Linked DNA regions of Homo sapiens. The protein of the gene in region 1 interacts with the protein of each later gene in a pairwise test. Each region holds a gene or a part of one and is shown in the gene's direction. Other genes may lie near its edges.

The links.
Region 2: the proteins of HIBADH (region 1) and CDS2 interact in binary tests that used the Homo sapiens proteins (3 or more experiments, as listed by UniProt).
Region 3: the proteins of HIBADH (region 1) and CMTM7 interact in binary tests that used the Homo sapiens proteins (3 or more experiments, as listed by UniProt).
Region 4: the proteins of HIBADH (region 1) and SNORC interact in binary tests that used the Homo sapiens proteins (3 or more experiments, as listed by UniProt).

What each region holds. Positions count from the first base shown.
Region 1 is NC_000007.14:27,652,193-27,660,047, reverse strand, and holds part of HIBADH (3-hydroxyisobutyrate dehydrogenase, mitochondrial isoform 1 precursor), read left to right. Parts: intron 1-3,281; exon of another isoform or gene 3,282-3,416; intron 3,417-7,397; exon of another isoform or gene 7,398-7,448; intron 7,449-7,855.
Region 2 is NC_000020.11:5,193,008-5,199,242, forward strand, and holds the end of CDS2 (phosphatidate cytidylyltransferase 2), read left to right. Parts: 3' UTR 1-4,880; downstream 4,881-6,235. UniProt on the Homo sapiens protein: Catalyzes the conversion of phosphatidic acid (PA) to CDP-diacylglycerol (CDP-DAG), an essential intermediate in the synthesis of phosphatidylglycerol, cardiolipin and phosphatidylinositol.
Region 3 is NC_000003.12:32,443,350-32,451,204, forward strand, and holds part of CMTM7 (CKLF-like MARVEL transmembrane domain-containing protein 7), read left to right. Parts: intron 1-6,104; coding exon 6,105-6,203; intron 6,204-7,855.
Region 4 is NC_000002.12:232,865,965-232,873,707, forward strand, and holds the start of SNORC (protein SNORC isoform c precursor), read left to right. Parts: upstream 1-4,299; 5' UTR 4,300-4,377; coding exon 4,378-4,450; intron 4,451-7,743. UniProt on the Homo sapiens protein: Plays a role in the regulation of chondrocyte maturation and postnatal endochondral ossification. May inhibit cell growth stimulation induced by FGF2.

The sequences.
Region 1 (7,855 bases):
GTCTCCCCGTGTTGTCCAGGCAGGAGTACAATGGCACCTACTTAGCTCACTGCAACCTTGAACTCCTGTACTCAAGTGATCTTCCGCCTCAGCTTCCCAAGTAGTTAGGATTGCAGGGTGCACCACGATACCTAGCTAATTTAAAAAAAAATGTTTTTTGAGACAAGGCTAGTTGCCTACTACGCTGGTCTAGAACTACTGGCGTGAAGCCATCCTCTTGCCTTGACCTCCCAAAGTGTTGGGCTTACAGGCATTAGCCACTGTGCCCAGCCTGCCACATCTTAATTTTTAAATGTTTGTTTGTTTGTTTGTTTGTTTATTTGAGATGGGGTCTCTCTCTCTCTCTTGTCCAGGCTGGAGTGCAGTGGTGCAATCATGGCTCATTGCAGCCTCAACCTCGTGGGCTCAAGCAATCCCCCTGCCTCAGCCTCCCAAGTAGCTGGGACCACAGGTGCACACCACCACACCTGGCTTTATTTATTTATTTATTTTTTTTGTAGAGATGGGGTCTCACCATGTTGCCCAGCCTGGTCTTGAACTCTGGGGGTCAACTGATCCTCCTGCCTCAGCCTCCCAAAGTACTGGGATTACAGTCATGAGCCACTGTGCCTAAGCCTAATTTTAAAATACTTAAAGCATTGAAAAGGAAATAGAAGAATGAGAAATGTTAAAGTGTACATGTATTACTATTTCATCACCTGTTTGATAAAATTGTGTATGTTATTTTAGAAGGTAATTAAGTTTAGTTTCAGACTTATTTGTACAGAGAAGAAAATCTACAGCTATAGGCCCTCTACAAAATGTCACGTTGTGACTCTACAGCTTGTACATGGAAAAATAAATCACATCAGATCATCTTGAGGTGACCACCTGACCAAAGGTAGAATGGAAAAATTAGCATCATGTATAGAAACAGGAATACAATTTTTAATATTATTGGTCCTTTTTGTATATGTGAAATTTACTTTCAAAGTAGCATAACTCATTGGATAAATCAAATATATAATGGCAGTTTTTCCCTTTACATTAGCTTCTAGGGCTGCACATGAAGTTCTGAAAAGCTGCTCATGGTCCGGGGCCTAAAAGTTGACCCTAAACTTGTGAAATTACATAAGGAGCGTATTTATTACTAAAATAAGTTGACTGAAACCGTAAAGGCCTTTATAGAGAAAGTCGTCACCCTTAGTTTAGTAACTGTTAATAGTAAAGCAGATAGAGTGCTTATGACGTAGTATTATGTGATAAAATAGATATAAAAAATGTATTATGTGATAAAATAGACATACATTGTATAGAAAATATAACCTTATGATATAATGAAAAATGCAGTCAAAAGACTGAAAGTCCATGCAAAATGTTTTTTTTATTTTTGTGTAATGAGATTGCTTCCCCTTACAACTGTATACTTTTTCATTCTAGTTTTCTACAATGAAAATGCATTACTTTGAATAGAAAAGAAGCCTCAGAAATGTAAAATAATTAACTTGTTACCAATTTTTGCATTTTGACACTTAGTGAAACCTGCTTTTTGATAGCACTTAAGGTTATCAAGATACGGATAACTCCCCTTGTTACATTGGAGAAAGAGGTCATAATCGGTAAATTTGCATCTATAAATTTAGAAACAAACTTTGCCAAGTTTTCTGGCTAGTTTCTTTTCATTCGTCCTCAGTAATAGACACTAATGCTAGTTTCTTAACCAGTGAACCAGTATCACCTTTGTATTTGGTTGATTGATTTTCTCCCAGCTTGGTTTTATTTATGTTTTAACTCTACTTTTTCCACGCACTACTGTCAGAAGTTATTTAAAGAGAGATGCATTATTTAGGTTTGAGAGTTTTTAGGGCAATAATCATTCCATTATACTCATGGATTTCTGCCCCTTTGGGTGCAAATTATTTTATATTTGCCAAGCGCTTATTCAGGTGTTTCACCTTAACTAAAAGCTTTCTTTCCCCAGATACAGGGCTTCTCCTACAGTCATCTATACTTTTTTCTATCTCTTTGGCTCTTGTAACCCACTAGGCAAAAAGGGGCAGTTGGCATAGGACTTGACCTGTACTGCTACAACTTGACCATTTTTGGTAAGAGTAACTAATACTTATTATCAATCGTGTGCCAGGCACTGTTTAACGCTTTATATGCATCATCTCAAGTAATCTTTACAATAATCTTCTGAAGTAGGTACTTTTATTGATCAAATGTTGTCTAGAGAAGTTAAGTAACTTGTAACTTCAATGGTATACATCTAAGAAGTGAACTTATCAGGATAGGAACCTAGGCCTTCCCAACTCAGAGAAAATTTTAAACATTATCACCATCAATAGATAACTTATTCTCTTTTGACATCAGGTCATCTAATTATACTGGCCTTTCTTTAACTTTGCCACAGAGAAAGATGAAATAAAGAGAGCTGAGTCCTTTGAAAACTTTATCTTCATTCACATTCATGTTGGCCCATCCAACATGGCCTCATTGTTCTTAACTTCTTCAGCTTCAGTAACATCAGCACTCTACTTCAGTTTTTCTAGGATCTTAGTAGTAGGAGTGATTCTCTTGCTGAGATTTCACCAGCAGAACTAGTCTCTGGTTGATTTAACCTCCTCTGTGATTCTTGTTCTAACAAACATACTGTTACATAATGCTCATCACCTGGTCCTTTGACTCCCTCCCTTTTCCTCCAAGTACATAGACATGCTTTCTTGTTTCCTCATTTCATAAGGTCTCTCTCTAGGTTTGTCTGTACCCATTCTCAAACTTATTTATAATTAGGAATTTCACTGATGCCTAATACTGTTTTTTTCAGCCTCTTGTTGTATTTCTGGATAAATCCATTGTTGTGGTCTGTTTGTGCCTTTCCCCAGCTGTCACTTAGCTTGGTGATATGGAGAGTCACAGAAGTTTGCTGATTAGATACAATGCTTTCATTAATCTCTTGTTTATTCCCCATTACATTTTCAGATTTTCCACAGCATTTCCAGAACTTTAACTTAGGGCTGGCAGCTCCTGAACCAGTCATTTGGCAGAAGGATGCCATTACCATGTATTAGTTTAGACAGTTTGAAACTTGACCTCGGATCTACGGGAAAGAATATTGGAGAGTCAACCTGCAATGTGTAATGGTTGCTGTGACACTGTTTACCTTTACACAGTCCACTTTTATCAGCAGCATTACTTTGTAATTGCTTTAGAACTGGCTTTTATTCCCATATGCCCATTTGATGAAACTTACCTAGTTTATTATTCATTCACATAGCATATATTAAATTTCACTGTGCCACTTCATTTATTTCATTTTATTATAAAAGTAGTTACAAAAGTTACATGCTCATGGTAAAAAATGGGAAAGGTTATAAAATTAAAAGTAAAATTTTCTTCAACTCCGACCCAGTAGTCCAACTCTCCAGGTGTAAGTACTGTTTCGTGTGTATCCATACAGAAAATCAGAAAAATTAATGCATATGTATCATTTTTTCTTCTCTTATACTGTATCCTATAGATAATGCTCAGCATTTTTTTTCCACTTAATAACTTATCCTGGAGATTTTTTCCTATAATTTTAGATAAATGTCACCTTTTTTTAAACATTTGCACATTTCATTGTGTTGATTTACTGTGAATTATCAAGTGTCCTACAATGTACATTTAGTTATGAATTAAGTGCCCTATTAATATATAATTAGTTATGAATGAAGTGCCTTATTAATACATAGTTATTTGCAGTTTTTTGGCTGTTACAAGTAGTGCTGTAATAAACTATATCTTTGTGTTGTTCAGAATTTAATACATAGTAGGGATTGCTATGGCCCATAGTTGGGCACCTTGTTTGTAAATAAAATTGTATTGGAACACAGCCATACCCATTTGTTTGTATGTTGTCTATGGCTGCTTTCAAACTAGAGTAGATGAATGAAATGGTTGTAACACCATTTCACAATGGCTCACAAAGCTGAAAATAATTTACTGCCTGACTCTTTAAGACAAAGTTGGCTGGCCCCTCATGTGTAGTATATATTCTTAGAAATGGAATTGCTAGGTCAAAGAGTATGCATGTTTTAAATTTAAATTCTAAATAAAAGTTCAAATTTTTTTTTGCCAAATTACCATCCAAAAGGTCGACCTAATATACAATTTGACAGTATATGAGAGCATATGTTTTCATCAGTTATTTCTTACCAAGAGTAGTTTTTATCAAAGAAAAAACTTATCCAACAGGTGAAAAATGGTATCACATCATTTTGTTTTGCATTTCTCTAATTATGACAAGTTGGGTATATTTTTAGAGGTTTTCTGGGGGGTAATTTACATATTTTCTGTTGTCATTTTGTGATTTTTGCCTACTTTAAAAAATTATTCATGTTTTTCTTCCAGATTGTAAAGTTATTTTACATATAAAACAAAGTAGCTCTATTTTTGTCATGTGTTAGAGTGTTTTTCTTATTTGTATTTTATCTGTTTGTGATATTTTTTCCATATAGATATGCTAATCTTTTTCCCCTTGTTTTATTATGAAAAATATGAAGCAGAAAGTATTGAAAGAATAATATAACTGACATCCATATACTCTTTCCTTAGAAACAAGTTGTTAATATTTTGCCACATTGACTTTTTTTCTTCCACATATATACCTATCCCGCTTGAATCATTTGAAAGTAAATTGCTGACATGACACTTTAACCCTAATGCTTCAGCATGAATCTAAGAATGAGGATATTCTCCTATGTAACCAAACTACCATTATCCTACCTAAGCCAATTAGCAGTGATTCCATGGTATCATCTAATGTACAATTTGCATTCAAAATTTCATTATTTTCTTAAAGGCTAGCTTTTTTTTAAAGTCAGGATCCATTCAGACTTCACACTTTACATTTGATCTATCACTTTAGTACTAATTGAGAACTGTCTTCTCTTGTTTGTTTCTATATATATGATACTGACTTTTTAAAAACAGCTTTATTAGCAATATAGTGATATATGATAAGTTGTACATAAAGTATACAGTTTGATTAGTTTTGATGTATATAAGCCGGTGAAGCTATCATCACAGTCAAGAGAGTGTGGCTGGGTGCGGTGGCTCACGCCTGCGCTCCTAGAACTTTAGGAGGCTGAGGCCCACTGATTGCTTGAGCTCAGGAGTTCGAGACTGGTCTGGCCAACATGATGAAACCTCATCTCTACAAAAAAATGCAAAAATTAGCCAGGACTGGTGGCATGTGCCTGTAGTCCCAGCTACTTGGGAAGCTGAAGTGGGATCATCTGAGCTTGGGAAGTTGAGGCTGTAGCGAGCTGTGATCATGCCACTGCACTCTAGCCTGGGCGACAGAGTGAGACCCTGTCCAAAAAAAAAACACAAAAAAATGGTAAACATATCCATCATCATACCCCTGAGATTGATTCATACCTCTGGAATATACAAATATTTGTATATTTTTCTTGGTTATAGATTTCTAGCTTGATAGTTGTTTTTTCCTTCTGGTATTTAAAAAATGTTGCACCACTGTCTTCTCACTTGCATTGTTTCTGATGAGAAATCTGCCTTTATCCTTATCTTTTTCCCTTTCTACATAGTGTGTCCTTTTTCCTGTGGCTGCTCTTGTGCGTTTGATTGTGATGCATCTTAATATGGTTTTCTTCATGTTTCTTGTATTGGGGTTCATAGAGTTCCTTGGATGCATGGGGTTTGTAGTTTTCATCAACTTTGGAACATTTTTGGCCATTTGTTCTTCACACATATTTTCTGCCCCACTTCTCTCTTCTCATTTGAGGACTCTAGTTACATATGTGTTTGGGTGGTTGAAGCTGTCTCACAGCTTATTGATGCTCTCTTTATTTTTTAAATTATTTTTTTCTTTGTGTTTTGAATAGTTTCTATTGCTGTATCTTCAAGGTTATTAATCTTTCCTTTGGTATCTACTCTTCAGTTAATCTTCTGGTATAATTTTCATCTCACATATTTTAGTAGTAGATTTCATCTCAAGAAATTTAATTTGTATTGATAAAAATATCTTTCATAATTCTACCTTTGGAATATATAGACTACAGTTATAATTTTTAACGTCCTTGTTTTCTAATTCTAACATCTGTTTCAGCTTAGGGTTGGTTTTGACTTTTTGACTTTTGAGTATACACGTTCCCTTGGGCTTCAGAGAGGTTCAACTTTGGCCTTCAGCCTCTTCATACTCATCTGGTGATTTTATTAACTTTTACAAATTTCACCTCTTAACTTTTGAGACAAATGGCTACCAGGTATATCTCTTTTTTCTCATCCTATCACTGAAACCTTGGTCATGGTATTTCTTTTTTTTTTTTGAGACAGAGTCTCACATTGTCGCCCAGGCTGGAGTGCAGTGGTGCGATCTCAGCTCACTGCAAGCTCCGCCTCCCAGGTTCATGCCATTCTCCTGCCTCAGCCTCCCGAGTAGCTGGGACTACAGGCGCCTGCCACTACACCCGGCTAATTTTTTTTGTATTTTTAGTAGAGACGGGGTTTCACCATGTTAGCCACGATGGTCTCGATCTCCTGACCTCGTGATCCGCCCGTCTCGGCCTCCCAAAGTGCTGGCATTACAGGCGTGAGCCACCACGCCCGGCCGGTCATGGTATTTCTAATAGTCTGTTGGACATCTTTTCAGCTCATTGACAGTTCATAGTTACCCTGGGTAAAACTGAGCCAGCTCTCCTTGATTTCTTCACTTAGGTATTGATAACACTATTCTCTTACTGTCATTTTGGACCTCACCCTTATTTTAGCCTATAATCCAATCCATTGTTTTATCCTTTTACTTCTGTCTTTGAAATAGTTTTTATACCTGTCTTTTCCTGTGGCTACCACACTTTATTAATTTTGACTTTGTTATGGACTGAAATTTTATGTCCCCACAAAATTTATATGTTGAATTCCTTTTTTTTTCTTTTTTGAGACGGAGTCTCGCTCTGTCACCCAGGCTGGAGTGCAGTGGTGCGATCTTGGCTCGCTGCATCCTCCACCCCCTATGTTCAAGCAATCCTCCTGCCTCACCCTCCTGAGTAACTGGGATTACAAGCACATGCCACCATGCCTGGATAATTTTTGTATTTTTAGTAAAGACTGGGTTTCACCATGTTGGCCAGGTTGGTCTCAAACTCCTGACCTCAGGTGATCCACCCACTTTGGCCTCCCAAAGTGCTGGGATTACAGGCGTGAGCCGCTGCGCCTGGCCAAAATTCCTAACCCTCAATATAATGATATTAGGAGCTAGGCCCTTTGGGAGGCAATTAGATCATGCGGATAGAGCTCCTGTGAATAGGATTAGTGCTGTTGTACAGAGAGACATGAGAGTGGCTTCTCTTTCTGCTCTCTACCATGTGAGGATACAGTGAGAAAATGGCCATCAGCAAACGAGGAAGTGGACCTACCAGACACTGGATCTGCTGTCACCTTCATGTTGGACTTCCTGGCCTCCAGAACTGTGAGAAATAAGTGTTCGTTATTTAAGCCATTATGGTATATTTGTTATAGTAGCTCAAACTAAGGCATCTAGAGGATTACTGTCACTTTTATATTGGTCTTCTTGCCTCCAGGCTCTTTTCTTCAAGTTCATTCATTGTACACTGCTGCCTCATTTCTGTTCCTAAAGTGTAAGTCTCATCTGTCATTTCTCTTGCCCACTGTTTCAATAACTACCTCTTGCCTACAAAATACAAGTTGTTTAGCATCCTTCTATCCTTCCACATTATGGTTGCATTTTTTTTTTAATCTTAATCTCTTGCTGTTTTGTTTCTTTGTGCATTCTTTAGGAAGAATAGAGGGCAGTATCATACAATGTTTACAAGTGGAGACTCTAGAATTAGAATGTCTGGATTTGAATCTTGGC
Region 2 (6,235 bases), on another chromosome or scaffold:
AGGAGGCCTGGCCTGAGCCAGGTTGGAGCTTAAATTGCTGTTGGCTCCTGCCTGGTGGAACAAGGGGGTCATAGAAACCAGGGCTGATGGGCACCCCCCAGCCCCTGGGAGCTCTGCTCATGACCGCTCACAGGGTACCGAGTCTTTGCCTTTTGTGTGTGCGCATGCTGCCCTCTTAACTGCTTTTAGTATTCAGAAAGGTTCCATTTATGTTTTACTCCTGAAAGTGAAACCCTCTTAGGCAACTTGTTTCATATTCTGGGCATTTTAGTAGCTACAGTATTTTGCATTTAAAATGTAATTACTCTTAGTATTGTACAGCCCTATAATGTATGAGAACTAGTTTCACATCCTTTGAAACTAATCTCTTTCATTGGGGAGGATACAACTTTTGACTTTACACAGGTGGACTTTGAATCCATTTTTATAGAATTTTTTTCCACTGTAACTTGACCTATATTATGCAAGAAAATCCCAAAAATATGTTTTAAGGGAGACTACACAGACCTTGTGATTTGGTCTGAGCTAGTTGCTGAGTTGACTGGAGCCTTATTTGAATGGATCTTTGAGTTGAGATCTTCACACTGTCAGTGAGCCCTTGGCTCAGCCCTTGTCACCTGTTTGTATGGGGACCATGTTTCCCAAAGCTCAGGTTCATCTCCACTATTGACAGAGTCGGGTAGTGGGAGAGTATAAGTGACTTGAGACAGAGTGTCCTTGCTCAGAAAACTGTGAAGCAGGGGTCTTGTTAGTTACAAAGCCAGTCCTAGTTGCATGTCCAAGGGGGTAGATTTTCATCACCCTACTAAATGTGGTATGTCACTGCTGAAGCCTTTTCCTGTTTTAGTAATATCTTAGGCACTATTGTCTTTTGTCTTCCAGAGTAACATATCTGGGCCCACCTTTCTTGCACACTGTGATTATGTGCTAAGAAAAGGGTGGAGTTGGGAGGACAATTTCACTTGAACAGGTTTCTGTTCTTCTGAGGTCAGGGTGGGGAGGATGTCCAGGTGACTTTTATGGACACATTGCAAGACAGTAAGCCGCGGATGGACTCTCACTTGTGCTTTGGAACACTGGACTCCAAAGAGCAGGTGGAACAAACTCTGGCCTGAAGATGATGGCTAATACTCAGGCAGAGCCCCGTATTCTTCCCTGACTTGGTCAAAACAAACTTCCTTTTCCCTTGATCACCCTGCACGCAGCTGCCCAGCTTCCAGTTTTTAAAGAGATGAACAGCTCTCACTTCCTGACTCAGTTTCTCTTGTTGGGTGGGGGCCTTGTGCCACAACCTGCATGGGGTGCTAGGGTTTAAACCAAGTGGTCACGAAGGATTCTTATCTCAGGGCTCTGCCTGGCCCACCTTCTCTTGGGCCTGGACTCTCCTTATCCACATCCCTGCAGAAGGTGGGCCCTATTCTCAGAAGAGTCCTGGCTGCTGTTGCCATCTGAATGCGCCCTTCCCTTTCAGGTTGACCAGCAGTGGCCTTACCTGGCCTCTCAGGTGGATGGAGGCTGTTCTCATCTGGGGCTGTCTCTTGATTAAGGCTGTCACCTGTTTGTATAGGGACCATGTTTCCCAACGCACTTTGAGTGCAGTTTAGGAGGTATCCTTTGGATGCTGAAGTGTTGGGATTTTGAGGACATGCGGATGATTTATGAGAATAGAGGGGCAGAGTTTGTGAAGTCTAGGGTTTTTTGTCCAGTGGGTTTCAAATTTGTTGGCTGTTTAAAGACCCTGTCTCCTCCCCCACCCTCCCCTTCCTTTTCCCATCAAATGCCTACCTACTGAGGCGCCTTCTCTTTTTATTCTTGAGCCAATGAGATATCAGTGTGTTTATTAATAAGGATTGCAATAGTATAGTGCTTAATATGTGCCAGGCATAGTGCTAAGGGTTTACATACGTTATCCCTTTTAATCCAGAAAACAGCCTTTGATTAGGTATTGTTGTCTCCATTTTATAGATGAGGAAACTGAGGCAGTATGACTGAGGCCGAGAGCAGTGGTTAAGACAGACTTTGGGATCAAATCACCCTAGGTGCGGGCAGGTTTCTAGGCTGCTCTAAGCTTCTACCTTGAAGGCAGTTGGGTCTGATAATAGTACCTTCTTCCTGGGGTGGTTGTGAGGATATAACGAGGTAATGCATGTAAGCATTTAGTACCATGCCTGGCACATAGTAAGCACTCAATAAATGGTAGTTACTTTTGTTGAGCTCAGCTGGTAGTTTGACCTCCGTTGGTGCAATGCCAGAGATGGGATTGTCAGCCACCACACTGCCACCACCCTGCACACAGTCTGGGTCCCTCCGAGAGAAGCACGCCAACCTTAACATCCCCTACAGCATCTTGGTGCTTCACACACCATTTAGGAGGCCACCCTAACGAGGCAAGAGGACATGGGGGTGTGCAGAAGTTCTGTTCTTAGTGAGAATGGCTGGCCTGAGAATCCAGCTCACCTCCTCTGCCCACAGTCTGGACTGCTTGTGGGAAGGCCATCTCCTCCTGTCTGGTGGTACCTCCACTCTGGGCAGGGAGGGCCTGTCTGTGACTCGCTCTGGACCCCACTTCCCGCTCTGGCCAAGGGCTGTCTTCTGTGCACATAGCTCAGGAGCCTGCAGCAGTTCCCTGTATGGGTGGATGTCCTCAGGGGCCAAGAAGAGAAGAATGGGGACAACAGAAACCTGCTTTGTAGGGGATTATGTAGACTAAAAGCCTAGAAGTTCTGCCCACATCCTTATGACGCAGCCAATCTGGAGCTTCATGTTTCCTTCTAAAAGTAGTAACCGGGTAGAAGTGGGTGACCCATTGAGGACACATGATGTGAGGTATTTCTGCCGGATTCTAGGTTAGCAAAGACTCAAATGGGTGACTCATGAATGAAGGGAGAACAGGCACAGGACTTAATGAAAAGAGTTTCTTGAACTTAGTTTTCTGAATGGGGGTGGGGAGTTGGGGCACGTGTGTGTAAGGGGAGGCTGCCTCACTTTGAAGGAATGGTGTTGGCTAACAGGATCCATGAAATTCCTAGGTCAGTTGAATAATAACTGAACTACTGGTTTGACTGTGGATTATTTCCTGGGTATTAGTGGGACCCAACAGCACATTGCTATTAATAGTATGGAAATAATGGTCCCTCTGTTTCATTGAATTGCTGAAGTAATGATAATGCCATGAACCAGGAGAAGATGGTTGTGGGGGTTTCTAGGAAGCAGCTGCTGTGACAGGCCAATCCCAGGCTTGCCCCCGAGCCCTCCTGTCCTTCTGGGTTTGTGTTTGCCTTGCCTGGTGCTTCCTCCCTCATTGTGTTGTTGAATAGACCTAGGCAGCCTTGTATCCATAGAAAGCCTCCACTGCTGGGCCGGGGAGGGGGTTGTGGTAAGGGCCCTCTGGAAATCAAGCAGAGAATGCCTTTGCAGTGGTCTCCCGGGCATTGGGCAGGGCCTAGCCTTTTGCAGCCCCCAGAGGACCTTGCCTGCATAAAGCACTCAGAAGGGTTAGCCACCTGGTGATTTTGTCTCTAGTGAAACTGTGTTTGCCGATAATCATCCACATAGCCACCTCTGTCCTCGCAGTTTGGATGCCTTTTTTTGACACCTGCGCTAGGTTCTTGTATGCTGGCTTTTCTTAAAGGAACAGCAGAGTAGAAAAGAGGTTGAGAATGTTTTCTAGCAGGCAGAATGTGCATACATGTTTTCATGAGTGTCCTTTGGGTGCTGTTTCTTTTAAATCCTCTGTGCACAGGGCTCTGGCCTTTAGTAAACTGTTTTTCTGTCTTACGTCATGCTGACTGGGTGCTAGGGGCTGATTACAAAGGGGAAGAGTTGAACAGACATCAGGGGCCGATGAAACCAAAGGACTAGGAGTCAGGAGAACAAGTCAGGGATTAGGAGACAGCGGTTTGGTTTATTGTTATCCAGCTGGAGGACTCCTAGGGGCAGCAGCAGGAGGAATACCAGGGCCACGGAGGGGCCAGGAGTCTCACAGTGGAGGGCAGACTCTAACAGATGCCAGCTGAACGCTCGCTGGCCCTGGATGTCATACGAGTTGGGGACCAGAAATCTGGGCTCAGAGAACCCGTCCAGGGAGATTTGAAGCCATGGGTTATCTTCTAGAGTTGATACTGATAATATATTTTAATTTTTATTGATGTTTAATACCTTCTGAAACAGGAGGGTAAGATCAGATGGGAAGCCCCTCTGTTGAAGGATCTTGGGAACCTTGGTGGTTTTTTTTTTTTTTTTGGTTTTTTTTTTTTGATCGAGCTGTGGACATCCTTCTTAATTCGATTCTGAGGATTTGTTTAACTAAAAAGTTCCCAAACACAGAAAGGGCCTCCCCACCTGCTTTGGGGAGCTGTCTGTGCTGGGAGTGCCAGGCATCCCATGGGACCCATCACTGCCAGTGTCTGTGCCTCCCAGAGGTCAGCCGTGTCTGCCCTGGCTCTGTCTCCTCTGTGACAGGGCAGAGCATTTCTGGTCAGTTTCTCCATGGTGCCTCCCACCCCTTTGTAAAGTGGATGGACATGATGGAATTCAGTTGTCTCACCCTGATAGCCTGGGTGTTGATATTCACTTTACCCGCACTCAGACACAGGCGACCTTGAAGCAGTTCTCGGTGTGTAGAGTCCACGTGACAGTCCCCACAGCCTCCCCAGATAGCTGTGTGCCTGTGCGCTACTGCTGTGCCATTTTCCCAACTTGGCGTTTCACTAAATGCAGCTGATCTCTCTCTCTGTGCACTCGTGATCCATGTTGAACAATACATGTAGGTTCTTTTTCCACGCAATGTAAGAACATGATATACTGTACGTTGGAAAGCATTTACCTTATTTATATACCTGAATGTTCCTACTACACAAATAAACATATATTAAATTCTAGATCATGTGTGGTTTTCGATGGTGGGGGTGGCGGAAGGCCAGGGGTGTGGACGTTTGGTTGCTTATGTGGAGCCAGCATTATTTCCCAGGATGCTGCTGACCACCGCTTGCTTCTAGAGACTCCCTCTGTCCTTGGCCTTGGCAACCTGCCCCCCCGGCTTTCCTCCTGCCCTTGGTTGCTCCTCCTCGGTCTTCTTTCTGGGTGTCTCTTTTCTGGGCCATCCCTTGGGTGGTGGCATTCTGCCTGAGGCTCTCTTTCGCCCACTGAATTCTCCCCTCTAGGTGTTCCCACCCCCTCCCAGGATCCTGATCACCACACTCATTTCAACACTTCCCAAGTCCATGTCTCTAGCCCAAGTGGGCCTGCATTTCCAGCTGCCTGTGAGGCCTCTCACACAGACTTTGCATGATAAAACCCAAACCTATGACCCATGTCCTGAGTCCTGTGTTCTCTAACTACCCATGTGTTCTGTCACACAAGCCAGTAACTGGAGTGATCTCATCAGTCACCCAAGCCTGCCCGTTCTGCCTTCCAAACATCCTCGGAATCATCCTTACTGCCAGCCTTCTGGGCCAGGCCCCATCTCCTGCCAGGATTTCTAAGGCAGCCTCTAGCCCTCTCCCTACAGCCTGGCCACCTCTCTAATCCATTTCTTGCATGATAGCTGGGATGAGCTCTCTGCTTGGAACCCTTTGGGTCTTGAGGTTAAAGTTCAGACTTGGTAACGAGGCTTCTGGGGCCATCTGTGAGCTGGCCAGTGCCTGACCCACGCATTCGGGCCCTGCCTTCACAGCCACAGCTGCCGCTTGTCCTTCCTTGTTCCAGGTGTGCGCCTGTCCCGGGCCCTGGCGTGGGCCCTCTGCCCAGTTTTTTTCCTTTCCCAGCTCTTCGTCAGCCTGCCTAACTCCTCTTTTCCTAGCAGTTCTCACCGTCAACAGCACTTCCTTGGGGAGGCCTTATGTTGTCTCCTCACTGTGTGTCTCCTGCCCCAGGACAGAAGGGTCTGAACTCCTGGGAGCCAGCAGGCCAGCCTTACCAGGGCAAATGTCTGAGGCCAGTGGGACCTCTAGATTGATTACCTTTTGGACAGGGGCCTCTGCCATTTTCACCCATAGGAAAGCTACTACCATTGGAATTTCCTCAGTGAATTGCTCGCCAACATTCAAGATGCAGAAAAACCCACTGCATTCACTTACTTTCCTAAACCCCACAAAATCTGACTGCAAGCCACCAGTTTCCAAGACTGATGGGAAAACCAACATGAGTCGTTTTCCCTGGCTGCTTTGCTCCCTTTTGTTGCACCAGGAGCCGAGGGCTCACATGTTGCTGAAGTGGTGAGGGTCCCTGGGCTCAA
Region 3 (7,855 bases), on another chromosome or scaffold:
CACTTTGGCCTCCCAAAGTGCTGGGATTACAGACATGAGCCACCATGCCAGCCTTTTTATAACCAAATTTTATTCCATTGTGTGGATAGACCAGACTGCATTTTGTTTTTCATTCATCTTCAGTGGACCTTTGGGTTGTTTTTACCTTTTGGCTATTATGAATAATGCTGCTATGAGCATTCATATACAAGTTTTTTGTGTGGACATATTTTCATTTTTCTCTGGTATGTATCTAGGAGGGGAATTACTGAGTCATATGGTCACTTTGTGTTTAATTGTTTGAGGAACCGCCAGACTGTATGCCAAAGTGGCTCACTGTTTTACATTCCCACCAGGAGTGTATGAAGGTTCCAGTTTCACAACATCTTTGCCAACACTTATTATCTGACTTTCTGATTCCAGCCATTCTAGTGAGTGTAAAGTGTTATTTCCTGTGGTTTTGATTTTCATTTCTCCAGTGACTAATGATGTTAATCATCTTTTCATGTGCTTTTGGCCATTTGTATATTTTCTTTGAAGAAATGTCTATTCGAGTCCTTTGCCTATTTTTTAATTAGGTTATTTGTCTTTTCATTATTGAGTTGTGAGAATTCCTTCTATAGTCTGGATAAAAGTCCCTTATCAGCTATATGACTTGAAAATATTTTCTCCCATTCTGATGTTTTTCACTTTTTTGATGGTGTCCTTTAAAGCACAAGTTTTTAATTTTGATAAATTTAGTTTATTTATTTTTTTTCTTTTTTAGCTCACGCTTTTCTTACATATAAGAAGCCATTTCCAAATTCAGATTGTGAAAATTTACTTCTATGTTTTCTTCCAAGAGTTTTATAGTTTTAGTTTATACATTTAGGTATTTGATCCATTTTGAGTTAATGTTTTTTGCATAGGGTGTGAGGTAAGGGTTCAATTTCATTCTATTGCATGTAGATATCCAATTATCCCAGCATCATATGTTGAAAAGACTATTCTTTCCCCCATTGAATGGCATTGGCACCCTTGTTGAAATCAGTTGACCATTAAATACATGGATTTAGTTCTGGACTCTCAATTCTATTCCATTGATCTATGTGTCTGTCGTTATGCCATTATCACACTATTTTGATTACTGTAGCCTTGTAGTAAGTTGTAAAACTAGCAAATATGCAGCCTCCCAATTATTCTTCTTTTTTAGGATTGATTTGGATCGTTACAATTCCATGTGAATTTTAGAATCGGGTTTTCAATTTCTACAAAAATCAGCTGGGATTATAATAGGAATTATGTTGAATCCATAGATCAATTTGGAGAATATTGCTATCCTAATAATATTGTCTTATCCATGAACATGGGAAGTTTTTCCATTTTTTTAGATAATCTGTTATTTCTTTCAATGTTTTGTAGTTTTCAGAGTAAAAGTGTTTTTTGTTTGTTGCTTTGTTTGAAACAGGTTCTTGCTCTGTTACCCAGGCTGGAGTGCAGTGGCAAGATCATAGCTCCCTGCATCCTCAAACTCCTGGGCTCAAGCAATCCTCTTGCCTCAGCCTCCCAAAATGCTGGGACTACAGGCATGAGCCACTGTGCCTGGCCTGAACTTTTTAAATTAAATTTGTGTCTGAGCATTTTATTCTTTTTGATGCTATTTTAAATCAATTTTTTTCTTAATTTTATTTCCAGATTGTTCATTGCAAGTGCATAGGAATCCAATTACTTTTTGCATATTGATTTGTGTCCTCAACTGTGCTGAACTACTTAGTAGTTCTAATATATTTTTCTAATATATTTTTAGTGGATTCCATAGGATATTCTGTAAACATGATCTGCAAATAGAGATATTTTTACTTCTTCCTTTATAATCTGGATGCCATTTATTTCATTGTCTTGCCTTATTGCAAGAAATTAGTTGACTAAATTAGACAAATATTGAATAGAAATGGCAGAGCAGCCATCATTATCTTTTTCCTCATGTTAGGAGGAAAGCATTCCTTCTTTCATCATTAAATATAACATTGGGTGTGAGTGTTTTGTAGAAGCCCTTTATCAAGTTGAAGTTCCCTTCTAGCATTACTTTGTTGAGTGTTTTTATCATAAAAGAGTATTAGATTTTGTCAAATGCTTTTTCCGTATCTACTGAGGTGATGAGTTTTTCTCCCATTATTAGTATGGTGTCTTACATTGTTTTTTGTTTTTTTTGTTTTGTTTTTTTAGACAGGATCTTGGTCTATCATCCAGGCTGGAGTGCAGTGGTATAATTATGGCTCACTGCAGCCTTTATTTCTCAGGCTCAAGCGATCCTCCCACCTCAGCCTCTTGAGTAGCTGGGACCACAAGTGTGCACCACCATGCCTGGCTAATTTTTTTTTTGTTTTTGGTAGAGATAAGGTCTCCCTATGTTGCCCAGGCTGGTCTTGAACTCTTGGGCTCAAGTGATCCTCCTTCCTCGGCCTCTGAAAGTGTGGCGATTACAGGCATGAGCCCCCACACCTGGCCTGGTTTGTTTGTATATGTTGGGCCAACCTTGCATTCCTGGGGTAAATTCCATTTGGCCATAATGTATAACCCATTTTATATGCTGGTATATTCAGTTTGCTAATATTTTGTTGAGGATTTTTTGCATCTGTATTTAAAAGAGATATTGGTCTGTAGTTCTCTTTTTTTCTGATGTCCATCTGGTTCTGGTATCAAGTTAATACTGGCCTCACAGAATAATTTAGGAAATATTCCCTCCTTTTTTATCTTTTGAAAGAGTTTGTGCAGAATTGGTATTAATTATTCCTTAACTATTTGGTAGAATTTAGCAGTGACACTGGGTCTCAGCTTTTCTTGTGGGTAATTTTTTTTATTGTTAATTCGAACTCTAATTTTACCATCTTTTCAGATTGCATCATTTATTCTGGAGTCAATTTTAGTAGTATATATGTCTAGGAATTTGTCCATTTCATCTAAGTCATTGAATTTATTGGCATGCAATTGTTTATTGTATTTCTTACATTCTTTTTATTTCTGTAAGTGCAGTAGTAATGTTTCCTCTTTCGTTTGCATCTTCTCTCTCTCTTTCTCTTTGATCAATCTAGCTGAAGATTTGTCAATCTTGTTGATCTTTTCAAGAACCAGCTTTTGGTTTCATTGATTTTTTTATTGTTTTCCTATTATCTTAATAAATGTTGCTTTAATCTTTATTTTTTTTCTTTCCTCTTCTTGCCTTAGGTTTAGTTTGATCTTCTTTTCCTAGTGTCTTAATGTATAATATAGTTTGGATATCTGTCCCCTCCAAATCTCATGTTAAAATTTGATTCCCAGTGTTGGAGGTGGGGCCTAGTGGGAGGTGTTTGGATCATGGGGGCAGATCCCTTGTGAATGACTTGGTGCTGTTCTAGTGGTAATAAGTGAGTTCTTGCTCTGTTAGTTCCCATGAGAACTGATTATTAAAGAGAGGCTGGCACCTTCCTCCCCTCTCTCTTGCTTCCTTCCTCTTGGCTGTGTGATGCCTGCTCACCTTCACCTTTGCTTCAGAAAGTAGAAGCTCCCTGAAGCCCTCACCAGAAGCAGATACAGGTGCCATGCTTCTTGTACAGCCTACAGAACCATGAGGCAAATAAACCTCTTTTCTTTATTTGTTGCCCAGCCTTGGGTATTCCTTTATTAAAACAACGCAAAACAGACTAAGATGATGTGGAAGGTCATCATCTAATTTGAGACCTTCCTTCTCCTTTAATATTGGCATTTACAGCTATAAATCTCCCTCTGATAACTGTTTTACTTGTATTCCATAATTTTGGTATATTGTGTCTTCATTTTCATACATCTCCAGGTATTTTCTGATTTCTCTTATGATTTTTTTTCTTTGATCCATTCATTATTTAGGAATATGTTGTTTAATCTCTATATATTTCCCTGATTTCCCTCTGCTCTTGATTTCTAATTTGATTCCATTGTGTTCAGAGAACATATTTTGTAGTCCTTCTTACCTTTATTGAAGTTTGTTTTATGGTCTGATATATCGTCTATCCTGGACAATGTTCTGTGTACATCTGAGAAGAATGTACTTTTATACATTGTATATTTGTATATTATACTTTTGCTGGATAGAGTTTTTATAGAGGATTTTTAGGTCTAGTCATTTTATGGTGTTGTTTGAATCTTCTATTTCCTTGTTGACCTTCTACCTGGTTGTTCTATACATTGCTGAAAGTAGGGATATTGAATTCTCCAACTATTATTTTTGAATTGTCTGTTTTTCTCCTTCATTTTTCTCATTTTTCACTTCATGTGTTTTGGCTCTTTTATTAGGTGCATATACGTTTATAATTGTTATATCTTACTTACGGATTCAGCTTTTCATTGTTATAAAATGTCCCTCTTTATTTCTAGTAACTTTTTTTTGTGTTCGATTCTATTTTGTCTGATGCAGTGTAGACACCCTGGCTTTCTTTTGGTTGTTGTTTGCGTGCCATTTCCTTATCTTTGAATATAAAGTCTCTCTCCCATAGACAGCACATACTGTAGTTATTTCTCGTTTTGCTTTGGTTTTTTAATCCAATCTGACCACCTCTGCATCTTGATTAGATTGTTTAATTGTTCACACTTAACACTATTACCCACTGTTATTTTGAGAGAAATTTCTTTTGTGTTTCTAAGTTCTAAGGCCCCTTTCAAAGTTATGGCATTTTTTTCTGCTTCTTTTGAGAACAAATTCCTCTGGGGCTTACCTGATGCAGATACTGAACAAGCAAAGGAGAGAACAAAAGCTCAGGGACAAGCACAAGAGTGGGCTGCATGAGGAGTGAAAGTTGGAAGGACAGACTCAGCCACACATTTTTGGCTGAGATACTATTTAAGTACTTCCGGTTAGGATTCTCTCAAGTTGGTTTTCTCTGCCCCATGTCATCCTCCTCTGTCTTAATAGTTGAGAATCTTGGAGGTGGGGAACTTGCAGTTACTCATCTGTTCTTCAGTTAAAATCTCTGTGATCTATCTTGTGATATTCCTTTCTAGTCACTAAGGGAGAAACCAGGGTCTTTGATTTTACATAGCTTTGAGAGGAGCTACAGCTTTAAATTGGAATGCTTTTCCAAAATTTAATAGCTGCCTGCCCTAAGGGGCAGAACTTCATGAAGGAATGATTTCTAGATTCTCATTGAAGACAACTGAAAATGGATGCACCCTGGATTCAGAGCAAGCACTGGAAGTGGCCCCCAGCCTCAGTTCTTCTCGGATCTGATGTTTAATGGGGAAGAGAAAGGGTGAGATGGAAGCTTTCCCTCGCCACTGAAAGGCCCATCTCATCCAGGGCCTGCAAGGATGCTGATTAATCATGATGAGTGAGTGGGGTGGAAATGCATGGCCCATGGGCCAAGGCGAGAAGCAAAGGTGGAACCAGTCCTGCCAGTGGATTCATTGGCAGAGCTTGGCCGGGAGGGCACTCTTCTGGAGAAAAGAGAAGAGGGAATGACAGGAAAAAAAAAAAAAAAGGCAGGAAGGCTCAGGAGTGAGAAAGCCAGCTGCCACCACACATCCACAGGCACTTCACAGAAGTGCCACTGACCTCATTCTAGAGTCTGAGTCTGACGGGACCCTGGGAATGAATACCTCTCAAGTCCACACTTGGGGCCATTCACAGAGTGGGCTGACACTCCCATCAGTCACACAAGACCAGCACATTGTTAGCCCAGAACTTTCTCCGAAGCAGAAGAGAAAGGCAAATATCTCTTTAAGGTACTTTGCTTCTCCGAGCTGGAGCTTTGTTTAAACTCTCCAGCCGGGAAGTTGCAAGAAGCTCGTTTGCTTTTTAGTAGCTTTAGCCAGAGGTTAAGGCACTGTCCACAGATTGCTCTCAGGAGTAGAGGAGTCCTTAGTGGCTATCTCTGCTCACACCAGAAGCTTCCTTTCTCTCTGTCCTCTTCCCTTCCTGCCTGCCCGGCATCACTTCTGTCTTGCTTGGCCTCTTCCTGGTCAGCCCGCATGTTGGCTGCCTGCGAGCGGCTCTGCTCATCCCATTTGCGTGTTGCAAGGGAGAAGAGGAAGCGTCACTCTCTCCCTTTCTTTTCATGTCTTCTGATGCCCAGTTGCTCTTCCCGGACCAGAAATGGACGGCCCTACCCACTTATTTGCTTTGTTTCTGCCCCCAGGAACTTCTGCACTATTTAATCGGTACCCTGCTCCTCCTCATCGCCTCCATTGTGGCAGCTTCCAAGAGTTACAACCAGAGCGGACTGGTAGCCGGAGCGGTGAGGATGTTTTGGGGAGCCTTTAGGAATGAATTCTTATTTAAAATGCTCATTTTCTTCCTGATGGGGGAAGAGAAGGGCTTGGTTTCTGGGGCATTCCCTTCATAGAATCAATACCTACCTTGATCCAGCCATCAGCTCTCTCCAAAGAGCCTTAAGCAGAGGCGTACAGTCCCAGAAGGTGGATTGTCAGGGCTGCCAGCAAATTCATAGACCCCAGCAGCCCAGGCCTCTCTCTCTTACAGGCACTACTGAAATCAGGGGGCCAGGCGGGTTTTAATTCACACACCCACTCTGATCATTTGCTCGTTGGCTGCCTCAGCACTATGCAGAGACAGATGCTGGAGCCTCTTTTGGGCCCAGTGGGAAATGTACTGTGATCAATTAGAGATACATGCCATGAGCCTGAGCTTTGCCATTCCTGATTTTTAACAGTATTCAGGCCAGGAAATAATACTCCTGTATCTTTCAGAGGCAAAAATTGATCCATCTGATAGCCATAAATAGAAGTAGATGGAAATATACAAAAATACAGTCCTGTGAGATATATACATACATATATATGTATATACATACAGATGTATATGCTATTTTTTTAAAGATTCATAGATTCCTGTCATCTGATTTCTGATTTAGCTAACTATTTATAGTTCAGTGGCCTGTGGGCCAACACTGATTTGCTTCACTGATGAGCAGACAAGATTTTAAAAATGAGTTTTGAGAAAAGCTCTCTCAAGCCAGATGTGGTAGCTAGCATGCACCTGTAGTCCCAGGCACTCGGCAGGAATGCTTGTGCCCAGGAGTTCGGTCTGGCCTGGGCAACGTACTGAGACCCTGTGTCTTAAAAAAAGAAAAAGAGAAAAAGAAAAGCTCTCTCTGTATGTGACATTCATTGTCTTTCACTTACGTATATTACCAAAATTTTCCAGACTTTGGCCTGGGAGTGGGTTGGCTCCTGGAATTCCACTGAGGGATGGAGTCTCTCCTCTGAAGGTCAGCATGGGGGCAGAAGGTCACTGTAGAGGGTGGCCAAACCTCCCAACACTGATGCTCCACATGGCCCTCCCACAGCCCACCATCACACCTCTCTGCCCCCTCTCTCTGCTGTCTCTGAAGAGAGGGATGGTTGCCCCCTGAAGCTTAACACCTGCCCAGCTACAGTGCAGGGTACTGGAAGAGGCACACAGGAGACCTGTGCCCACTGTGTTTCCGGGCCCACTTGAGGAGATTCCCACTGTGTTTAGTAATTCAGGTTGCACATAACTGTTTAGCCCTGGAATCTCTATAGCTAACATTCATCATATGCTGTCTGTGTGCCTAGGACCAAACCTGGGCTATGAGGAAGTTAGAAGAAATTTTTAAAATATGGTCCCTGCTTATAAGAAAGTGGTCATCTAGCTTAGGAGACAAGACACATGAAACAATTAGTAAACAAGGCGTTGTAGTCTAGAATAGCATTCTGTAGCGATATAATAAACTGTTCAATTATGCAGTGCAGACAGTTGGGGACCGGGATGGTATATAACGTGCTAATTGTGCAGAACAGACAATGAGAGGCCGGGACAGGCTCTAATAGGCTAATTATGTGCTGTAGACAATTGGTACAAAAGGAGCCCAGGAAAAGAAACCCGGGGAAGAAGTGGATGTGGGCT
Region 4 (7,743 bases), on another chromosome or scaffold:
CAAAGAGCACTGTCTCCTTTTAGTGGGGAATGGTATCTAAAAACCAAAACCTGGCCACTGGATGGGCTCATTGCTAGTGTGGTATCACTGCTTCTAGACTGTCCACAGTAAGGGTGTTTATGTATGTGTATAGGTACAGAAACGCTTGTGTATCTACACCTATCTGTGTATTCATGCTGAGATCTGCAATTCCAGTACAAATGCCATAGGATTCATTCTAATCTCTCCTTTTCATATTTGCAATTCCCTTAAGCAGGGAGAAACCTCACACTCCCTTACCTTCAGTGTTTTTGCTTTTGCTCATTAACACAAACTTTATTGGCTTTATCCCTGTTGTCTTACTGGCCCCACCTATATAAGTTCTCTGTGCCCAGGTCTTTGTCTTAAGGTCTGCCTTAGGGAAACCCAAACGCAGATAGCTCCCAGCAGTTTCCATTGTTAAATTCGTTTCGTAGGATATATTCACTTTGGCCAAGGACTACACCCTTCTTTTGGTAGCTGTGTAGCTGTGTATTGCTTGGCATGTTTTGTGGACCTGCACTCAATAACTACTTGCTGAATAACTGATAGGTTTTGAGAAAATTTTTAGTATTTACCAAGAATCTAAGTTTTTAGTAAGTTAAATTAGAGGAAATTCTATGGTATTTTTCACCACAGCTTATGAGATTAATTTTCTGTTTGCACGCCTATTAGGTTCAAGTTTGGGACACACATGCACAAAGGTCTGAACACCCTTTGAAAAAAAAAGTGAGTTTTGTTTTTGTTTTGATGTGGAGTCTTGTTCTGCCACCCAGGCTGGAGTGCAGTGGTGCGATCTCAGCTCACTGCAACCTCTGCCTCCCAGGTTCAAACAATTCTCCTGCCTCAGCCTCCTGAGTAACTGGGATTATAGGCACCCACCCCTATGCCTGGATAATTTTTATATTTTTAGTAGAGACTATTATAAAGACATTATAAAAATGTTTGTATGTTTAGTAGAGACAGGGTTTCACCATGTCTCTCACATTCAGTAGAGATGGGGTTTCATCATGTTGACCAGGCTGGTCTCGAACTCGTTACCTCAAGTGATCCTCCCATCTCGGCCTCCCAAAGTGTTGGGATTACAGGCGTGAGCCACAGTGCCCAGCCAAGCCTGAACACCCTTTGGAAAATTTAACCTAGGTACTAAAACTTGTGAAAATGAGCCATAAATTGGGTTTATTTCTAAAAAATAGCTTCACACTTCCTTGGTGTTTTTGTTGGGGAATCACCTGTCTGTCGAATGACTAGTACTACTGTGCACTTCCATAATCCTCAGTATTTCCTTATTTGCTAAATCCTAGGATATACCAAAGTGGTTACAGAATTGCTAACCCATACCAAGAGAGACAAGCTTTCTAAACTAGAGTTCTATATGTGTTAGCTCTAACTAGAGACAAGTTTTCCAAGTAGAGTTCTATACTTGCTTAAAGACACTCCAACATTATAAAAATACATATGTATAGTATTATTCATTGCAGCTATCTGTAATTTTAGACTTTTTGTCTGGTCTAAGTATTTTTTTCTACCTTTAGCATGGTTATAATAATCATTTGAAATACAATTCATTGTCTTGAAATTCTTAATTTTATCTTTGAAATTTGAGTTTTATAAGTAAAGTCTGATGGAATAGTGGAGCACGCAGCAGCAGCTTGCAGCCTTGGCTCACGCCTGCCTCGTCCTGCCTCCCCAGGGTGGGTTCTCAGCCCACTGCTGCCCCTGGGCAGCCTGCCTCCCTCCCTATCATCCATATGTCACTTGACTTCCATACACTTTCACTTTGGTAAACACAGTGACATTTTGAATATCCAAAGATGAGTGTCAGCAAAAAGCCAAAGTCTAGTGATCCCTGAAATACAAATGCATCTCCTTTCCGCCAGTGCCCAGCTATTCTGGTCCACGACTGCCTAAACCTTTGAGGAAGATTTGGAAGAAGATTCATTGTCTGTACTTGTGGCCATCTTGCAGGGTCCTTCCTTAAAGATAAATTGCCTCCCTCTCTATCAAGAGATTTTGGTTCTGGGAACCAAGTGAGAACCTTGATGCTCCATTATAGTAAATACAGATTTCTGCTCACCTGTTCATTTTTGTATATCAAGTAATACATTAGTAGACTGGCTGGCTGTTTTATTCCTAGGGATCAAAACATTCTGATGGGTCATTTCATCTTTTTTTTTTTTTTTTTTGAGATGCATCCTCCACCTCCCAAGCTCAAGCAATTCTTGTGCCTCAGCCTTCCAAGTAGCTGGGACTACAGGTGTGCACCACCATGCCTGGCTAATTTTCATATTTTTATTGGAGATGGGTTTTCGCCATGTTGGTCAGGCTGGTCTTGAACTCCTGACCTCAAGTGATCCGCCTGCCCCAGCCTCCCAAAGTGCTGGGATTACAGGCGGGAGCCACCGCACCTGGCCAGGTCATTTCATCTTCACCATCCATGGCAGGGTTGGCGTCCACCCGGCCTCTGCTGCCGCTTGGCCTCTGCTACTTTAGAATCACATTATTTCCTCTGAAATCAGTGATCCCATCATCAACTCTGGCCTACAAAAAACAGCCACAACCTATCTTTTTAAAGTTGCCGGTCTTCACTAATGCATCTCGCAGTGTCTTGGTGAATAGTGTGTACTATGGGACCTACTGAGAACTTAGTGTGGTCGCCAAAGATAAATCCACCCCAACATTCCTTTCTTACTAAGCCATTGGTATCCCCTTCTTCATTAAGTTAGGCTTCTCAATCTCATAGCATCCAGGCTTTTACTGAGCCTAGGTTTTGGTCAGCCAGCCAAACAGAGCTGCTCCTAGATGCTTAGGTTGAAACATTAAATTCAGACTTCACTAAGCACACCCCTGTCTAGAATGTGGCCGGATCTAATGTCATACTCACATCTTGCCTATTTAGTCTGACACCTTAGAATTCATTCCCACACCATGTTTCTATTAATATAAATTAGCAAAATTCGTATCTTACTAACTTGATACTAATTTATTGCTAGCATAAATTAACAGTAGTTTTTAGTTTGTGCTTATTTCCTCCTAAGTCAGACTTTGTGCTTGCTCTCCCTAGGAATGCTGATACCTGATTCTAGTTATGGATATGGAGGCAAGGAGAAGTTGTTAGGGTAGGTACAAGGTAATTTCATATAAATACGCATGCTAAAAAGAAATTTGAAGTGATGGGGGGATTGAGGGGCTGACTTATCAAGCTGAGGCTTGAATGGAAGGGGTGGCCACATAATCACCACAGGACTGCCTTCTGGGAGGAGAGGGGAACATGCAAAGGCCTGAGGCAGGATCTGGGGGTTTGTTGGGGGAGCCTAGTCACGGCCAGTGGACTGAAACATAGAGCTCGTGGGTGGGAAGCTGAGCAGGGCCGAGGCAAGCCCTTAGCGCGGTGGGAAACCATCAAGGTGTGAAGTAGGGGGCGCTGACAGAACTCTGAGGGCTCAGACGTGGGAAGTGAGGGAAAGAGACACCTTTGATGACTTCATTGTGTGGCTAGAACATCTGGGAGCGGGGAACTGGGATTCCACTGACTGAGTGAGGGAAGGGGCAGTAGAGTCAAGGTTTGCTTTGGACACTGTAAGTTGTAGCCGCTCGTGAGATACCCTGCGGGGCTGTTGAGAAGCAGTGGGCAGTGGGGCTAAGTTCTGAGCCAGGCCCAGCCTGGAAATGGATGTCATAAGTGCACAGGGGTCTAGGGAGGCAGAGAGCGAAAGAGGAAACAGGAGCGTTTTAGGAAAGACTAGAGCTGCCTGAGGGTTTGGATCAAAACTGCTTTAAAAGTCCTTCTTCAACAAGCACTGAGCACCTACTCCGGGCCAGGCATGGAGAACCCAGAGGTGAGCAGAGTCCGTCCTGCACTCAGTGCTGCCTGCTTCAGGCCAAATTTCCCCAAGCCCAGGCCACAGGCACTAACATGCAGATTCCCTGGGCTACCCAAGCCCCACTGAAACACAGTGGCCAGAGGCAGCAGCATGTTTCAAGTTCCCTGGGTGATTCTTTTGCACAAGAAAGCTTGAAAACCTTTCATTTTCAGTGGTCCAGGAGTAAATGTGGGAGGTGTGTGTGTGTTGCGGGGTGGAGAAAGAGAGAGAGCACAGGCAATTTCCTCTTTCCCTCTCCAAGAGCGGGGCTGCTCCCAGGTTCAGGAAAGCAGGTCTGTTCTGTGAGCTCTTGTGTGTGTGTGTTGGTGGGGGGAGCGGGGGGGTGGGGAGGTGCGGGCACGATGTCCCAGGAGGACAGAGTTTGCATTGATGAAAACCCTTCCCAGCCCTTTGATGCCTCTTTCTCACTGCCCTGAAGTTAACCAGCGCAGTCCTCCGTGCGTCCCGCCCGCCGCTGCCCTCACTCCCGGCCAGGATGGCATCCTGTCTGGCCCTGCGCATGGCGCTGCTGCTGGTCTCCGGGGTTCTGGCCCCTGCGGTGCTCACAGGTAAGAGGTGAAGGCCCTTGTCTCAGCCACCACTAGCCTCCCAGGGCCGATAACTACCTTGGGGCCAGATTCTTCAACGTTCACTGGGGAGGAAGCCCTCTCACAGGAGATGGGATGACTATTTGGGGTGATTCTGCGAAGAGCTCTTGTGAGGCCGGCTGGCAGCAGCTGTGTGGGATGGACGTCTCAGGAAATTGTTAGCAGGAGGGATAATGGCCTCTGGAGAAGGAGGACAACTTGGGGGGCAGGCCCAGGGATGTTTTGCTGTTGAGGGGGACATGGGTATTGCTCTAGCACTTTAAAATCTGAAGTCTCCCAGGTCTGGGAGGCAGCTGGGGCACCAGGCACAGGACAAGCAGCTGAGGGGCCAGAGGAGTGCAGAGCCTTGCTGATTACTTTGAAAAGCTTCCCTGCTGGTTTCTGCGACGTCCTTAGAGAATGAGGACCCAGGTACTGTCCCCATCTGGGAAAAGGCTCCAGAGAGGGAGAGAATACAAGGCCCAAGATCCCTCTGCAAAACGGTGTGGACCTCTGGACTGAGATCAGAGTGGCGGAGTCTGGGGTCCCACGAGAGGGAGGCCTCTGGCAGGCTCCCAAGGGCCCTGTGGAGAGGGGAAGACTGGCCCAGGCTGGCTTCAGAGCCTGAGAGACAAAGGGCGCAGACGGGTTACAGGTGGTCTTTGCTCCTTTTGGCCGGGAGTTGGACCAAAGGGCAGCTGGCTTCTGTGTCACAGTAGCGGGGTTCAGGGACCCTGCAGCCTGGGTCTTCTGGAGGGCGCCCGTGGATCTGTGAGAAAGGTGGACCGCAGTCATGAGAGCATGGCCTGGGGAGAGCTTCTGGGGGACGACAGGCCTGGGGAGGCCCCCTCGGCCACACCCTGGGAGGTCTGGGTGACAGCGAGGAGCACCGGAGACTATTGGCTTCTCCCTGGACGCCCAGGAAGAAGCTTGAGGCCAGGGTGTGCTCAGTCTTGACCGGGCGGTTTCTTAACCTCTCTGTGCCTTCTCGTCATCTGTAGGATGGTGACACAGCCACGCTCTGCCTCACTTGCAGGGGTCTGTGAGGCCTCGTGAGTTCAGACGTGCGGAGCTTTTGGGATGGGCCCCACATCCAGTTAGCGCGAATGTGGATTCTGTGGTCCGAGCCCCTCCCTGGCACAGGGTGGTCTCAACAGAACTCTACTTCCTCCCGCAAGCTGGGAGGGCGCCAGCCTCCCTTGTGGTGGAAGAGGCGCCAGCCTAGGCGAGCCATGCGGTGTTCCCAGGATGGGGGGAAGGGACTTAAAGGGGAAGGTGGCATCTTCCATGGCTTGGATCCTGGGGCTGTGATCTTTGCAGCCCCCTCACTGGGAAGAAGCTGCTTCTCCAGCCTGGTGGTCCGTGTGGGCCGAAGGGGAGGCCCTGGCTCCTGCCTGCTGGGCCTGGGCTGCCTGTGGCTCCTGCCCAGGTTCCTACTCCTGTGTGGCTGACCCTCCTGGCCCAGGCTGCCGGCCAGAGTTCCCAGGCCAGACTGTCCCTAATCATTGTAGGCGGGTGGGCTTCCTCTGCCACCACAGGATGCCTTGGGGACAGCCAGGACCTCACCTGGCCTCACTGCCCCACTTCCCTCCATGTGTCCTACCAAGAGTAGGCAGGCCCCCCGCAGGGGCCAGACCAGGCCTTCCCAACCCCGGAGTCTCTGGGGTTCTGGCTGTTGTTCTTGCGAGAGCGTTTGACCCCACCCCTGGGCTGGGAGCTCTGGACAGGTGTGTACACGGCCCTGGGCTCTGTGGGCTGGGGTCCTGTAGCAGACAGGAAGGGAAGGAGCGGCCTTGTGGGCTGAGGCCCAGGCCCCATCTGAGGCACAGGCCCTCCCTGTTGGGGGCCTGTGGCCTCAGCTACTGAGGTGGGAGCAGGCCGGGCTGAGCGGGCAGGAGGCCAGGGCAGGGATGAAAAGGCCCTTCATGGCCCACACAAAGGCTGTCTGTGAGCAGAGGCGCCTGGCCTCAGGGCCCTGTGGTCAGAACACACTTATTTACCAAAAGGCAGGGCGGCTGGGGCCAGTGGGGCTGGGAGAGAGCCCGTGGTGCCCAGGCTTGTGGCAGTGCCACCAGCCCCTGCTTCCCTGGGTCAGAGCGCGTAGCCACACCACATGGCTAATTCTGGTCAGTGGAGTCTGGGCCTCATTACCGCCATGGAACTTTCTTGGGGTCCTCCGTGCCCCCACCTCTTTGCCAACCTCACTTTCTGTCACCCTGGCCTATTCACTGTCCGCCTGGCACGCCGTGAGTTCCGTCCTCCACACCTTCGCTCCTGCCCCATCTCCCCCCTCCCCAGACAGGACTCCTGCTGGGAAACTGCTCTGCTCCCAGCTTCCCAGAAGGATGGATTTGGGGGAAGATGGGAATTGCCTCTCAGCTTTGCTTTCCCTTCTTACTGGAGTAAATTCTAGAAACATAGATGAGGATAAGAAGTGCCTCGGCCCCTCCCTGGCAGCGGCACCCCTTTTCCTGGTGGATCGGTGGCTGAGTGCAGGCTGTCATTCCGAGCCTATGTGTCTGCCACTTGGGCACCAGCCTAGGTTGGCAGGGAGCTGGTGGCTCCTGGGGCCCTGGCCGCTTGGGTGCAGATGGGTACTGGGCCAGCCTGTGAGGGATTCCTGTGGCAGCCAGCGGCTGCAGACCCATAGCAACTGGGCTTGTGTCCAAAGGCGCACCCCAGGCCAGACGCAGCAGCTGAAGATGCTGGTGTTCACACAGTTACCTCCTTGTGCAAGATGCTTGACAGCATAGTCTGAACCCCCGTCTTACAGGTCAGGAAGGTGGATTGGGGCATGGAGCAAGGATAGGCCCCAGCCCTCCTGATTAGAAAGCTTCATGGCCTGGCTGGACAGGAGGGGGCTGTGTACAGTGGGAGGAGGCCAGGGCAGGTATGTCTGGTGGTGGGCGCAGCAGAGACAGGCTGGGTCACGGGGGACAGATGGGGACAGGGCCTGAGTGGGGCTCCCCACTGCCCTGCTCAGAGGGTACCGTCAAGGGTGGCAGCTCACCCCTGCTGGGCTGGCCTGGGTACTGAGCCCTGCCTTCTCAGGGGCTGGAGGCCTGCCACTCCTCGGCTGATTCCCGCAGATGCCACCCGGCTCAGCTGGGCCTGGTACCCAGAAGCCCTGCCGCGGCCTCCAGATGCAGGGAGGTGCCTACCTGCCAGTCTGTCTTGGGTGTGTCATTTGTCCATTTCTTTGGACATGTTCAGGCAGTCAGTGAGCCTAGACCCTGGTGCCTGCCAGGCGGTGGGCGCACTCAGGCCTTTTACCT